Regions from separate parts of the Homo sapiens genome. Here regions 2 and 3 are each linked to region 1. Evidence: fine-mapped expression QTL. A gene starts in region 1. Each other region holds a variant in brackets. All regions are shown on one strand. Distances are between the middles of the regions. Region 1 holds the start of ADCY7 (adenylate cyclase 7). Region 2 overlaps BRD7 (bromodomain containing 7). Region 3 holds the start of LOC124903785 (small nucleolar RNA U13).

Region 1 (5,755 bases):
GAGGCAACCGCTGTCTTGCTGTCTGTCACTGTAGATTAGTTTCATCATTTCTGAAGTTTCATATAAATGGAAACGTGCTGAATGTGTCTTTTGTGGGTGGGTCTTTCACTGTCCTTGCCATCTTGGATATTCATTCATGTTGTGTGTTAGCAGTGATCTGTTCCTTTTTACTGCTGAGTAATTTTCTGTTGTGTGAATATATGAAAATTTGTTTATCCATTTACTCATTGCAGGATGTTTGGGTTTGCAGTTTGACTGTTAGGATGAAAGCTTCTCTGAACACTTGGATAGAAGTCATTTGTGGACACATGTACTCATTTCTTTTGGGTAAATACCTGAGATTGAATTGCTGAGTCATTGGGGAAGCATATGGTTTGCTTTTGTCCACACTGCCAGGCAGTTTTCATCATGGTGGCTCCATTTTACATTCCCACTAGCAGTACATGAGAGTGAAGAGCTGCTTCTCCTCCTTGTCAACACTTGGTATTTTCATTTTAATTTTAGCCATTCTAGTGGTACAGTGGAATCTCTATATGGTTTTAATTTGCTGGTGGCTAATGATGTTGAGTATCTTTTTCATGTGCTTATTGGTCATTTTGGCATCCTCTTTGTTGAAGTACCTGTGTAAGTCTCTTGTTCATCTTTTAATTGGGCCATTTGTCTTTTTCTTATTGGTTTGTGGGAGGTCTTTTTTTTTTTTTTTTTTTCTGAGACAGAGTCTCACTCTGTTGCCCAGGCTGGAGTGCAGTGGTGTGATCTCGGCTCACTGCAACCTCTGCCTCCCAGGTTCAAGTGATTCTCCTGCCTCAGCCTCCCAAGTAGCTGGGATTACAGGCTCATGCCACCACGCCTGGCTAATTTTTGTGCTTTTAGTAGAAACGGGATTTTGCCATGTTAGCCAGGCTGGTTTCAAACTCCTGACATCAGGTGATCCGCCCACCTTAGCCTCCCAAAGTGCTGGGATTACAGGCATGAGCCACCATGCCAAGCCTGGGAGATCTTTATATATGCTAGGGAGGAGTCTTTTGTCAGTCATATAGGATGTGACTTTCTCCTAGTCAGTGGCTTGTCTTTCCCCTCTTTTGATGATGATGATGTCTGTTCCTTCTCTGCTCTGGGACATTTGCTAGGGAGACATTTGCTGATAGGAGGGCGACCCTGATGGGGAGGATCCCCTGAGGTCTCCCACTCCCTCCTGTGGCCTCTGGAGCAGCCTGGAACCCTGTGTGAGTCCTATGCCTGTCTCCACCAGATGGCAGACCTTAGATCACCTGCTAGTTCCCTGCATGGGGCCTGGCACAGAGACAGCACCTAACATGTTCAGTTCCTCCTGATCAGTATGTGTGGGATGTCTACTCTGTGACCAGCTGGGGCTGGACGCTGGGGACACAGCTGTTGATATTACAGCTGCCCTCCCATCTCTGCCCTCCTCAAGGATATAACCTAGGAAAGACAGACCAGCAACCAGTGGTCACAGCACAGAGGTGCTGTGATGGAGGAAGGTGCAGGGGTTAGAAGACCAGAAGAGGGGTGTCTGACCCTGGATGTGGGAGGTGGAGGAGGTACACCATTGCTTTGAGGAGCTCGTAATCCCAGGATGCCAGTCACATGCTCAGAAGGGCTCCCTGAGGACCAGGTGCTGCTGTGGCCAGCGGGCTGGAGGCCTCCCCCTCTGTTTTGGGAGTCTCCACTCTCTCCTCTTAGCCTCTCCTGATCTGCTCCCTCGCCACTGAGCGCCCCATGATCCCAGTGGGGAAACTGAGGCCTGGCATAGCAGAAGGGGTGCTGGGGTTTGATTCCCAGCCTCATGGTGCCCAGGGATGTTGGGGGCTCTCCAGGGACTCTGATTTTGGAATAGGAGCCCCAAGGATGGGCCTGCCCCTGCCCTGCTCCCAGCATGGGAGCGTAGGTGAGATGGAGAGGCAGTGGGCTGGGCTGGAAGATCTTTGACCTCTCCTGGGCCCCTCTCAGAGGTGGACGGGGCCACCTTACTACATAGATAGGGAAATTGAGTCCCAGGAAGGCGCGGGGGGCCTGTCTGTGAGCGTCAGAGCCCACAGGAGGCTCAGGCCAGGCCGCTAATTGCTAATTGCTCACTAAGGATGCATTTGCTCCCCACTTTGAACAGTTGTCTTGGGGCTTCTAATGGAGGTTTTTGGTGCTTGTTTTATTATTATTTTTTCAAAATTGTTCCAGCTTCAAGCTTCAAATTTCCATGAAGTCATTGGAGCCCGACAGCTCCCAGGCCTGGCAGCTCCCAGGCTGCGGAGAGCAGCACTGTGGCTGGGGGAGGGGGCCCTGCACACCCCGAGAGGCTGGGCTGTGGGCTGTGCCTTAGCCTTGCTGCCGCCGCCGCCGCTGCTGCCGCTGCCGGAGCAGGAAGTGGTGGGTCCCAGATGTGACTCACTCTCATTAGGTAGCGTGGAAGGAGCCTTCGGATGGGTGAGCCTGGGCGCGTCTGAGGAAGGGCAGGCGGGGGCCGGGCCACCTCCCTGCAGACCCTGGCCGGCTGCTGGGGCCGGGGAGGAGAGCCAGGTAAAAGTGGGGTGTGGGGATGGAGTGTCACCAGTCCTAGTGGCTTGAGCCCCAGGGGACGGGGCTGGACAGTGGGTGGGAAGCAGCTCACCCGGCAGCCTGGCCTGGGAGTGCACTGGGCAGGGTCTGGGCTGGGGGAGTAGGAGGCTCCGTGAGCCTACTGGGCAGATGGCTGGGAGAGGCGGCCCTTCAACAGGGGACCAGAGGCGACTTGTCACTGGCTTTTCCCAGCCTGACAAGAAAGTGCGGTTGTGACCACAATGTTGTACATGTGGCCCGTTCCATCTGGAATTCTAGGAACCACAGACTCTCAAATGTCCACACTCCTTCTCGAGGGTGTAATTTTACATTTACAAGCACACATGACTTTTCTCAATGAAAGGAAACATTGGCAAGGGAAGGCCAATTCAACTAATTTTATGAAATTATAAAACAAAAAACAAACAAAACCTCTGAAAGGAGTGCATGCCTGAGGGTCAGGAAACCAAGATGCCTCCAAAAAGCAGACTGGTTTCCCTTTCCCTGCAATGCCTCTCCTCTATCCCCCAGGGACCGCATGGGCCATCTGGAGTGGGTCTTTCTGGAGCGGGTCTTTCTGGAGCTTTCTATGCATTCATCTAAACATGTATGTACAGAGGGTGAGGCAGTTGCCTCTTCTCTGTGTCATCACATCAGGGTCAAGGGCAGGGACATCTGTGGCTGGGGGCTTCCTCCCTGGACAGCCATTGCTGGAGAGGAGAAGGGAGGGCCGGGAGGGGGAAGCCAAGGGCCTGGAGGTAGGGGCCAGGCCGAGCCACCTACGACAGGGGCCCTGGGTCCAAGGCCTGGACGGGCAGCCAGTGTGGGCTGGATGTGTCTGGAAGGGCTATGTGACCGTGGGCCTTCACTAGCATCACCATCTTGCAGATGGAGGCTGTGAGGGGTGGACTCAACACCAGTGTTTCTCGGAGTGAGGACCGGGCTGCCCAGGGAATCACAGGGGGTTCTAGCCTGTGTGTGGAAGGACATGTTTAAAATCTAAGTATTTGTCTTGGGGAAAAAAAAATCTGTAAATAGGACATTGCCATTGTGACATCATGACTGTATTATTGTCTTAGACGAGGCCAAAGGAGACATAAAAGTGACAAGCCAGCCAATTTGAGAGGAAGTGCCAAGTGCCAGCCCTGCAGGAAGTGCAGGAGGCTGAGGGGGCTGCAGCTCAGGAAGGCGTTTGCTGCACAGCCTTCGCTTCCCACCCAGTTGTCTGTCTTCCCACCTCCAGAGGCCCTGGGTTCCCAAGGTTTACCTGCAGCTCCTGGTGCAGAGTGTGGGGGAGGGGAGGCTCTCAGATTGTTCCAGATTCTGTGGCCCTCAGAAGGGCAGGTGTGAGCTTTGTGGAGGTAGCGTCTCCGGTGGTATTTTCTTTCTTTCTTATTTTTATTTATTATTATTTTTTGAGATGGAGTCTCTGTCTGTTGCCCAGGCTGGAGTGCAGTAGTGACCCTCTTGGGTCACTGTAACCTTTGCCTCCTGGGCTTAAGCCGTCCTCCTCCCTCAGCCTCCTGAGTAGCTGGGACTACAGTTACCACACCACTACACCTGGCTAATTTTTGTATTTTTAGTAAAGTAAAGACGGGGTTTCACCATGGTGGCCAGGCTGGTCTCAAACTCCTGACCTCAAATGATCCATCCACCTCGACCTCCCAAAGTGCTGGGATTATAGGTGTGAGCCACCACCCCCAGCCTCTTTTCTTTTTTTAAGACAGGATCTCACTCTGTCACCCATGCTGGAGTGCAGTGGAGTGGTCATAGCTCACTGCAACCTTGAACTCATGAGCTCAGGCAATCTTACCGCCTCAGCCTTCTAAAGTGCTGGGATTACAAGCATGAGCCCGACGCCCAGCCTTCTAGTGCTGTTTTCATGAAAGAAGCAGCTGTTTACTAGCAGCTGTTTTCCGGGTGATGAGGGTGAAGGTGGTATTGCAGAACATCTTTGCCAGGAGTAGGTCTGGGAGGTTTGCTTGAGGGCATGGAGGTTGGTGTAGGGAGAGCTCAGGAAGTAGAAATTGGGCTGGAGTGTGGCCTCTGGACAGGCCACAGGAGAGTCTCAAAAGGAGAAAAGATCCCAGCACTTTGGGAGGCCAAGGTGGGCGGATCACTTGAGCCCAGGGGTTCGAGACCAGCCTGGGCAACATGGCGAAACCCCGTCTCTACAAAAAATACAAAAATTAGCTGGGTGTGGTGGCGTGTGCCTGTAGTCCCAGCTACTTGGGAGGCTAAGGCAGGAGGATCCTTTGAGCCCAGGAGTTGGAGGCTGTAGTGAGCCATGACTGTGCCACTGCACTCCATCCAGCCTGGGTGACGGAATGAGACCCTGTCTCAAAATAAATAAATTTTTCAAAAGAGACAAAAGTCCGACTCGATGGTTGCACTGGGGACATGCACCCCACTCTACAATTTATAGCTACTGATTTGACCCATTCCCCACCTCCTCCACCGCTCCATATGGTAGGTGCCGTTCACCTCCAGTTTACAGAGGAGACAGGGCCCAGAGGGGCTGTCTATCCTGAATAACCCAGCAGATCGGTCCTCAGGCATCCAGTTGTGCCCACCACAGTGTGGTCTGCTGCCACATTTGAGCCTGGAGTCAGGGCCAGCACACTGTGTCTTTGGCGAGATCAGATGGGGCAAAGCTGAGAACAGGGGCTCTGGTTGGTGCTGAGGGATTCGTGGGGGTGGTCCTTACTGGGAAGATGAGGAATTGGGCTCCTGTGAGGGCCTCCCCTACCCTGCCCTGTGCCTGGACTTCGCTGGGCCCACTGCGGGAGAGAAGAGGTAGGACGAGGCCTTCTGCGTGGCTGGGCCAGGGTGGGCTGTCTCACGTGCTTTCCTGGATGTGTGGTTGGGTCATGCCTTAGCCAGGAGGTAGGTGGTTTGTCCACTCCCTGTCATTGCAAGGGTCACAGAGGTGGCTGGGTGGCCTGACCCTCAGCACCGCTCCTTGCCTCCCTCCTGCTGTCCTGGAGGAAGAGGATGTGGACTTGTTCATACTGAGGTGACACAGCATCCTCTCTCCTACCTCTCCCACTGCCCAGGGAGAGAGCAGCGCTTAACTCCGCTGGAGAAAGTTCCAGGCCTTTGAGGGAGCATGCAGAGTGGGTCACAGTGGATGCCTGTATCAGAGCAGCCCATTCTAGCCTTTCATGGGGTGGGAGGGAGGCATTTACTACTTTTAAAAGAC
Region 2 (5,000 bases), 74 kb after region 1:
CCATGTCTTTAAACCTGGAATATGGCATGGTTCTAGATTCTGAGAGTCTTCCTGCAAAGAATGGGTAAACATTTCATATTCCTCTTTCCTCTGCGAATGTTGTCAAAGATGGGTAACTGGCTTCCATTAGTTTCCCAAGTCTTTAGGAAAGGGTGGGAACCAAAGTTGTCTAAATATTAGGAGCGCAAGAATAATCAACAATCCAAACATGTTTTTCTTTCTCTAGTTAAGTGAATCCAAGAATCTCTCAGCCAAGCATACAGACACTCAGACATCTGCACACCAAGGCATTTCTTTAAATGTAAAACTGTAATACAGAAAAATGAATCACCATAAAAATCGAAAAACCACATGCAGATGCACGACTCATTTTTATCATCCTTTAACTCCCCTGAATGTGAGCTCAAGCTCTGGACTCTGATTCCTTTCTCCTTCTACCAGTGTCTTATACCCACTCATTTCTTCTTTGCAAAATCCCTGTCCTATCTTGTGGTTCTTTTTCATAGTATCCTCTCTACTCTACCTCTTATCTAGAATCAGAACAGTAATGCTAGAAATCATCTTGGAGACCACAGACTAAACCCTTCTTTAGGGATGAGAACACTGAGTCCCAGGGTAGTTAATGTCTTGCCCAAAGTCCACAAGTTAGTGGAAGAGAGCTAAAATGAAAACTCTCTTCTGCCTGCCTGCCATGGTATGGTATGGTGCCAGGATCACCCTTGATTCGTTCCCTAAAGTAGTCTCTTACATAGGTTTCTCCCACTCAGAGTGGTGAGAAAAACCTCAAAAGATATGGCTTATCTTGCGAGTTATTTTCTCCAGCGGATGCACAGTGATCATCTCAGCTTACCCTTCAAAGCCTTTTATCAACTGTCGTCCTGGGGACACTAGTAATTTTTTGCCACTGTGTATAATATCTCATGTTTACGCTCTTTCCTGCAGTTTGATGATGATGTGTCTGTGCCTACGCACACACTTCTCTGACCTCAAATGACTTACTATGCACTAATTCTTACCCTTTAAGGAAGAGTCTGCTGTTGTGGAGAGGTGGTTTTGAGACAGTTTCAAATTTTCTCTCATTTGTATATAGTCACATGTAGCTTAATGAAGGGACGCGTTCTGAGAAATGTACTGTTAGGCAATTTTGTTGTGTGACCATCAATGAGTACACTCACACAAACCTAGATGGTATAGCCTATCAGACACCTGGCTAAATGATATAGCCTACTGCTCCTAGGCTAGGAACCTATACAGCATGTTACCATACTGAATACTGCAGACAGCTGTAACACAATGCTAAGTATGTGTGCATTTAAATATAACAAAAGTACAGTAAAAATACAGTATTACAATCTTATGGAACCACCACTGTATATGCAGTCTGTATATACAGTATTATGCAGCGCATGACTGTATTTTCTTACTAGAAATTCTGTGCTTCTGACAGGACTGACCAACGTTAGATTCCACCCCTACAAATGCAAACAGAGAGCTTTCCTCTTCAGAGTTCTCACAATTCAGCCAGTCTTATCCTGGAATTCAGGCTGATGTTTCAAGCTGATGTTTTATGTCTTAAGAGATAATTACAAGTGAATGCCAATATTTATTTGTATTGATTCCAAGTAAGAATTTTCCTGTCTTAATTTTCTTCTCTTTATTAAAATTTTTTTCATTTAGTATTTTCTACTTTATTTAATATAATATAACCTGCTAATAAAATAAAATCAATACTGTATTGTATCTGTATTACTATGGCCAACAAACAGCGACACAGATTTTAATAACTATTATTTATGACAAAGAGTTTCCTTTACCTGGCTAAGAATTTTCATTCCTGAGTGCAACAGCTTCTTTGCAGCTTTATAATAAATGGTCTCTGGTTTATTGTAAATCATGGCATTAGTACACATTAGTTTGAAGTTATCCTGCAGAAAGAACATTAAGGGAGAAAATGCATTAATGCAAAACAAACTACCCTGCACCCCCAGGTTGAAAATATACAGGTCCTCTAAAAATTTAAAAAGCAACATCCCTTTCTTTATTTACTAAACAATACTAACAGTAATTTATTAAGTTTTAAGACTCACCAACAAAACAAATACTGCTAAATGTATTTAAATATGCTATATTATTTCCCAAATTCTTAAATATTTTATAGTA[C/A]CTGTATATAAACTGTAGATCCCAGAATGAAACTTTTAAATGGGTTTCTTCAGTATAATCTTACTGCACATAAAAAAAATGTGAAGAAAATACTTCTATTTCATATGTAATGATTTTAGCTGAGTAGTTCATGTAAATAAAAAAAATATTACTCCTAGCTTTAAAACAAACATCTTAAATTTCCATTTAGGAATTGAACATTTTATTTCAGATCTTGACTGAAAACGGAGCAGTCCTAAATTATCGCAGTATTTCCTGCCAAATTCACATTAACTGAGCAAAAAATGTTAAAACATTTACACTACTTTTATGTGTTTGGATACTATCATAAACTAAACATAATTTGCAGAATGTTGCAAAACCATGCCAATGTGAAATAAACCATACAACCTCAAGGAGTTAAAACATGTAACTGGAGTAGCCAAATTACCAAAACTGTCTTTTTGGCTTAAATTTCCAAGTCCGCTATGTGCTGGAGAACTTGACCCCACTGCATGCTTTCATAGTTAAGTAATTTTTACATCTATAAATGTGCGATTCATTATGCCAAGGCCTTACTAAGTTGAAAGAAAAACCCAAGAAAAGAGAATCTGCCCCCTACAAATTTGTTTAAAAAACAAAAAAAATTCAAATTCCACTATTTAATAGTGATGACAGGTTAGAACACTTAAATAGAACAAAAATAAGTAGACTGAGTTCTATGTACAAGTACGTAAGACTGAGTGAAGGGTCGCAATAAATTTGGTATTAAAGTGGATGAAGTATATGTGGATCTTCAGTTTGGGCCATGACTGTAAATATGCCAGGTCTTGGATCTCTAAGCATCTGATGAAAGCTATGGGACCAGACCTTAAGTACACACACACACACACACACACACACACACACACACACACACAGCTGAACACAAAAGTCTTCATGTAATTTTAGTAGGTTCTTGGTCCCTCTAAAGGCTCATTATGGTATCCAAAGGACCCTAGATTAAAGACCTTTGTTACAGATATTTGGAAAAGCTTCCAGGCCATTAAGAATTACTAGGCTGGGCATAGTGGCTCACCCTTATAATTCTAGCACTTTGGGAGGCCGAGGCAGGTGGACTGCTTGAGCCCAGGAGTTTGAGACTGGTCAGGGCAACATGGTGAAACCCCGTCTCTACTAAAAATACAAAAAAATTAGCTGGGTGTGGTGACACACCCCTGTAGTCCCAGCTACTTGGGAGGCTGAGGCACAACAATTGCTTGAACCCTGAACGTGGAGGTTGCAGTGAGCCAAGATCATGCCACTGCACTCCAGCCTGAGCAACAGAGTGAGACTCGGTCTCAAAAAAAAAAAAAAAAAATTAAATATGTATTTGGGGGGATGGGACGCAAGTGAACGGAGATACTAGATTACTATATATACTCAAACTAAGTGACCATTTGGCCTATAATTGGCCAGATAATGGGCCTATGAACTGGCAAGAGTACTGAATTGTTCTAATGAACACAGGACTGATCTATTAAGCCAATTTGTAGATTCCTTAAATCTTAACATAATGTGCTGGGCTTTACTGAACTGTGGGTGATGGCACTGGTCATTCAAAAAGCTGAGTCTTCCTGCACACTTTTCACACACACACACACACACACACACACACACACACACACATTTTACTTCAACTGCCAAATGAACTGAATAAATATTACTTTAGGCCGTTGAGCTTTCCCTAGAAAAAAGTGGCAACGTAGAAATTCTAAAGAGCTAAGATACCAATTCCTTTCAATTATGATAAACCCTAACCTGCTTAAAAACACTCTGGGGACACACTTCTACTCTTCTTACTGTAAGAGAAAGATCAGAGGAAAATCATGCAGAAAAAAAACAAAAAACAAAAAACTGTGAAATTCTTTCCCATTAAGCAATGGTAAGGTCAGAAATATGCTGAAATAAACGGTTTTAGCCTAATTTTCACCAGATAAAAAGTTGGGAAAAGTTTCTATTTCTCGAAATAAGAGAGAATGTAATTCAGATTCTTTGGAGAAAGTGGAATATTACCTATAAACTCAACAGTAAAGAGCACTAAACACTGATATTCTTCATAAATCTCTGCTTATCAATATGTGGATGAAAAAAGGGACTAAGTAAAGACACTGTCTTTTTTTTTTTTTTTTTTTTTGAGATGGAGTCTCACTCTGTCGCAAGCTCTGCCTCCTGGGTTCACGCCATTCTCCGGCCTCAGCCTCCCGAGTAGCTGGGACTACAGGCATCCGCCACCACACTCAGCCAATTTTTTTGTATTTTCAGTAGAGACGGGGTTTCACTGTGTTACCCAGGATGGTCTTGATCTCCTGACCTTGTGATCCACCTGCCTCGGCCTCCGGAAGTGCTGGGATTACAGGTGTAAGCCACCACACCTGGCCATAAAGACACTATCTTATTTTATTTTTAGGAAAATAACTAATTAGGGTAACCAATTAGGGTCTAACCCTTATAGGTCAGGTGAGCACTACTGTGGTTATGTAAAACAAAGTAGAGGTAAAACAGATATTATCTAAACCAATTAAGTTTGTGGCGGTTGAATACATAGTAAATTTTAATATACATGGTTCCTTTCCCTGGAATCAACACACACCAGGACACTCCCTCAAATGGGAAAAACCTCATCTATAATAGGTATATATATTATAAGTTTTCAGGTCCTTGTAAATTTTCTATACTCTTCTTAAAGCTGAAGAAAATATGCTCAACAAATATAGCCAAAATGAACTCAGAGAGCAATTAACTTTCATCAAATTAGAAAATGTAATTAAACTTCTCTTTAGTATTTCTGGACAAGCCAATTTATTCTTTACTTTAGAGTA
Region 3 (5,000 bases), 87 kb after region 1:
TGGCTCTGGGTTCTAATTCCCAATGTCTTTAGACTAAGAAATACTTCCTGAAGTGTTTTTTCATTAAGACTTTGTTTCTAATTGACATATAATAATTGCACATATTTAGAGGGTACAGTGTGATGTTTCGACACATATATACTAACATACATATATACAAGGATACTTCGGTGTATCCTTGTATGTATGTATGTATGTATGTATAAGGTGTAATAATCAAATCAAGGTAATTAGCATATTTATCACCCCAAACACTTGTTATTTCTTTGGAATAAGAACATTCAAAATCCTTTCTTTTAGCTATTCTGATGTATATAATAAATGGTTGTGGACTGCTGTCACCTTACTGTGCAACAGAAGACCAGAGCTTATTCCTCCCATCTAACTGTAATTCTGTACCTGCTGACCAACCTCTACCTTTCCCTTGCCTCTGGTAACCACTGTTCTACTCTCTACTTCTATGAATCAACTTTTTAAGATCCCACATGAGTGAGATGATGTCATATTTGTGCCCTCACCATATTTTCTGTCTTCACATCAGATGGGTAATGTGCTGATGTTGTAACAAAGTTTGAGGGCGGTATATCTCACAAAGGAACATGAAAACCCAATCATTACACTTATGAACTACAAAAGGATCGTGCAGTATTTGTTCTTCTGTGTTTGGCTTATTTAACATGATGTCCTCTAGGTTCATCCATGTTGTTACAAATGATAGTATTTCATTCTTTTTAATGGTGGAATAATACTCCATTGTGTATACATACCACATTTTAAAAAATGCATTCATCCATTGATGGGCACTTAGACTGATTCCATCTTGGCTACTATGAATAGCACTGCAATTAACACAAGAGTACAGGTATCTCCTGGACATACTGATTTCATTACCTTTGGATATATACCCAGTAGCTGAATTGCTGGATCATATGGTAGTTCTATTTTTAATTTTTTAAGGAACTTGTTGTCCATAATGGCTATACTAATTTACATTTCCACCAACAGTATATACAATTTCCCTTTCTCTACCACATTCTTGCCAGCTTTGTTTTTTTTTTTTTTTTGTCTTTTGATAACAGGCATTCTAATTGGGGTGAGGTGATTTTGACTTGCATTTCTCTGATTATTAGTGATGGTGAGCATTTTTTCATATACCTGTTGGCCATTTGAATGTCTTCTTTTAATTAAGTCATTTCTTTTAAGGTGACATCATTAACCTACATTCTGGCCTTACGTTGCAAGAAAAACTCTAAGGCAGCCATGACATTTTACAGTCACACCTTGTAAATTGCAATGGAATACCCAATACCTATTCACTCCTTTCGGACAAGTAGTGAAGTAATGAACAAGTTATTTAAATATAAAGACTAGATGTAATTTTTCTCAAACACCAAAAAAGAAGAGAGATCAGTAAGTTCTTTTTTTTTTTTTTTTAGAAAAGATCTCATTCTGTTGCCCAGGCTGGAGTGCAATGGTGCTATCACAGCTCACTGTAGCCTCAACCTCTTGGGCTCAAGTGATCCTTCCACCTCAGTCTCTGGAGCTGGGACTACAGGTGTGTGCAACCACACTAGGATAATTTTTATTTTTTTGTAGAGATGGGGTCTCACTATGTTGCCCAGGCTGGTCTTAAACTCCTGGCCTCAACTGATCCTCCCACCTCAGCCTCCCAAAGTGTTGGGATTACAGGTGTGAGCTACTATACTCGGTTAACTTCTGATCTTAACTGCAAACCTGAACAGGCATTGAATACAGATTACATTAGAGAAAAATTATTTACAATGTGTTCTGGGTTGACTTAAGTTCAATACAATGAAAGAAAGTCCACTGTAAAAATGTATGATCTACAACCATAAACCCTTTGCAAATAATGGAAATATCTTTGAGCTGAAAATTTAAACTCTGAGTAGAGAGATATCAAAATAAATATATTTTATTTATTTATTTATTTATTTTTTGAGACGGAATCTTGCTCTGTTGCCCAGGCTGGAGTGCAGTGGTGCAATCTCGGCTCACTGCAAGCTCCATCTCCTGGGTTCACACCATTCTCCTGCCTCAGCCTCCCAAGTAGCTGGGACTACAGGCGCCCATCACCATGCCTGGCAATTTTTTTTTTTTTTTTTTTAAGTACAGATGGGGTTTCACCATGTTAGCCAGGATGGTCTCAATCTCCTGACCTCGTGATCTGCCCGCCTCGGCCTCCCAAAGTGCTGGGACTACAGGCGTGAGCCACCACACCCGGCCCAAAATAAATATTTTAATAAAGATTGAGTTATTCTTTTCCCTTTTAAGAACTCAACAGTAGCTTAATCTAGGCACTGAAATTTTTAGAACCAATTTCTGCATTTAAAAGAAGGCCATAATTCCTATTTATGGTGTTTTATTTTTTCTCCCATACTTAATAATTGCTAAACATTTGTGGCATGATAAGCATTGTACAAATACATAGAAGGTATTTCCATCTATTAGCAAAGTGGAAATATCTGTATTGTTTATTCCTGGCTTAAAGTTTTAACATCAGAAATTACTTTAGAGACAGAAATTTGTCATTAAAAGTATTATGTAACACCCTTCAAGTTGCCAGGGAAACAAACCAAATAAAGAATATCTAAAAGTTAGCCTAGCCTCTTGGAGTACTTCTGCTGCCAGGCAAAATATTTATCATTCACTTTAAAATCA[C/A]GTATGTTTGGAGTTAGGCACAAATGTGGTTTGGATCCTACACATCTACCATTTTAATTTCTATGTTATAAAAATATTGGAAAAACATTTACCTCTGCAATTGTCTCATCAGTTGATTCAAAGCTTCTTGAAGGGGTGTCTGTTCTACTTCTAAAGCAAAGAAGAAGGGAAAAGGGTATTTTAAAAAGGAGTATTCTAGAGAGTATTATTTACTAGATCATTTTCTACAACCATTATTAAATATCTCATACAGAAATTCCATTTATCTTAAAAATATATTGAAGTTTGAGAGTATTAATCCAAAATTGAAGCTAATTTAAAGCTCTTATGCAGTTTGAGAGAAAAAACTTAAAAATTCAATCACAAAGCTCCAACTTAGAAGCTAAAACCCCACCATTTTCCTGAGCTATAATGATTTCAGCCTCCTCATTCAGGATAGTTAATTCAGAGTTATTCCAACCTTCTTGTTTGGCTAAAGAGCTTGTGAGAGGCTTCTCAGGAGGCAAGTCTAATCTCACAGGGGCGTGACACTGGAGATCTTTTTCTGCCTCATTCTCCACCCGGTCTCGATCTCGCTTCTTTTTATCCTCCTAAATGGAACAAAGGGAGATAATTTAGAAATATTTCAGAACCAATATCTTTAAATACATAAATCATTTTAAGGGGTAAAAAGACATCATTGTAAAGAAAATATTCTTAATAACAAGCTCAATGTACTTTACTGCCATCTACTGGAAAAGGAGAGAATAATACGTTCACGAAGGAAAAAACAAAGGGGGTCTCTATGCCAGAAATAACCAGTTAGAAAAACAATACTATCCAAAAAAGCAACATAGTGTATATAGAAATAAATCTAATAAAAGATACCCAAAACCTTTTGGGAAAAACTGTGAAACATTACTGAAGGTCACAGAAGGCCTGAATAAAGGAGATATACTATGTTCATGAATTCAGAGTCAATCCTCTCTCAAGTTATCAATACATTCGATGTAATGCCAATCGAAATTTAAAAACAAAAATTTCCATGGAATTCAACAAGCCAATTGCATTAATTTACCTCGAAGAGTGAACGATTAAGAACACAATAGTTTTGAAAAAGGTCAGAGTAAGATGATACGTCTTACCAGATATTATTTGTATAACGTGATAATAAGACAATGTGGGTCTGACACACAGACAAATAAGCCAACAGAAGAGATCAGAGCCCAGAAACAGACCCATGTACATAGAATAATCTTAGTATATCACAGAGGTGACATTATAAGTCAATGACAAAAGGGTGGTGCTGAGACAACTGTTACCTGAAAAGAGAAAATAGAATTTGAGCTCTACTTCATGCCATACACAAAAGTGAATTCCAGATAAAGACTTAAATGTACAAAGCAAAGCTTCAGAACTTCAGATAAAAGAAAAGCATCTTTAAGACCCAAGAGTAGAAAAAGACTTTCTTAAAAAGATATAAAATGAATAAATTTTAAAGGAAAACCTTGATAAATTTGATATTAAGTTGATAAATTTTGGTACCTCAACAAAATCCATGAACCAAGTTAAAAATCTAACGATAGACTGAGATAAAGTACTTGAAACACAACTTATAAAACATTAAGGATTCCATGAAGAGCATCTATAAATCTATGCAAAAAGGCAAAAAATCCAAAAAAGAAATAGATAAGTGATATCACAGGTAACTCACAGAATAAGAAATGTGAAATGTTGAGAACATGAGAACTAGCTCAAGCTCCCTAGAACTTGGGTAATTATAGATTTAAAAACTAGAAGGCATTTCGCCTCTCTTTGGCAACATTTGTCTGAAATGTCAAGTTTTGATAAAAATGTAGAGAAATGGGATTTTCATACCTTGCAATTGGGTGAATAGGAACAATCCTTAGCAGAGCAATTAGCAATATCTAGCAAAGCTAGCAAAGCCTTTAACCTACTTCTCAACTGCTACTCTCTGTGCATATACCAGAGAAATTTCCTGTCGTATGGTCTACATGGAGACTTGTAAGAGATTACTGCAGCATTGTTTAAAATAGTAAAAAATAGGAATAATCCAATGCCTATTAAAAGGAAAATAGATTAATAAATTGTGTCATATTTACATAACAGGTAATGTAAATGAGCTAAAATTGTATTGTATCAACATGGATAACATTCAGAAACAATGTCTGAAGAAAAGTTGCAGAACAATTACTGTTACAAGCTATGTATGAAAATGTGTAAGCATACATTGTTTACAGATGTATGCAGAACTTGTAATTATAAAAACATGCATGTGATATACACCAAATTCAGTACAGTGGTTCTATCAGAAGGAAAGA

The links. PIP is the estimated chance that this variant, and not a neighbour inherited with it, causes the effect.
Region 2: its variant is fine-mapped to the expression of ADCY7 in whole blood (TOPMed, PIP above 0.99).
Region 3: its variant is fine-mapped to the expression of ADCY7 in whole blood (TOPMed, PIP above 0.99).

What each region holds. Positions count from the first base shown.
Region 1 is chr16:50,264,146-50,269,900 of GRCh38, forward strand. ADCY7 (adenylate cyclase 7) reads left to right here and starts at 2,406. Exons shown (of 26, transcript NM_001114.5): 1 at 2,406-2,535. RefSeq lists enhancers at 303-482, 1,550-2,143, 2,089-2,178.
Region 2 is chr16:50,338,162-50,343,161 of GRCh38, forward strand. BRD7 (bromodomain containing 7) reads right to left here. Exons shown (of 17, transcript NM_013263.5): 6 at 1,815-1,925. Among named protein-coding and RNA genes, the nearest start is that of BRD7, 28 kb to the right of the region's middle. The variant C/A (reference allele first, on the strand shown) is at 2,161.
Region 3 is chr16:50,351,654-50,356,653 of GRCh38, forward strand. It overlaps BRD7 (bromodomain containing 7), which reads right to left. Exons shown (of 17, transcript NM_013263.5): 3 at 3,140-3,269; 4 at 2,772-2,829. LOC124903785 (small nucleolar RNA U13) reads right to left here and starts at 639; the gene lies at 536-639. The variant C/A (reference allele first, on the strand shown) is at 2,680.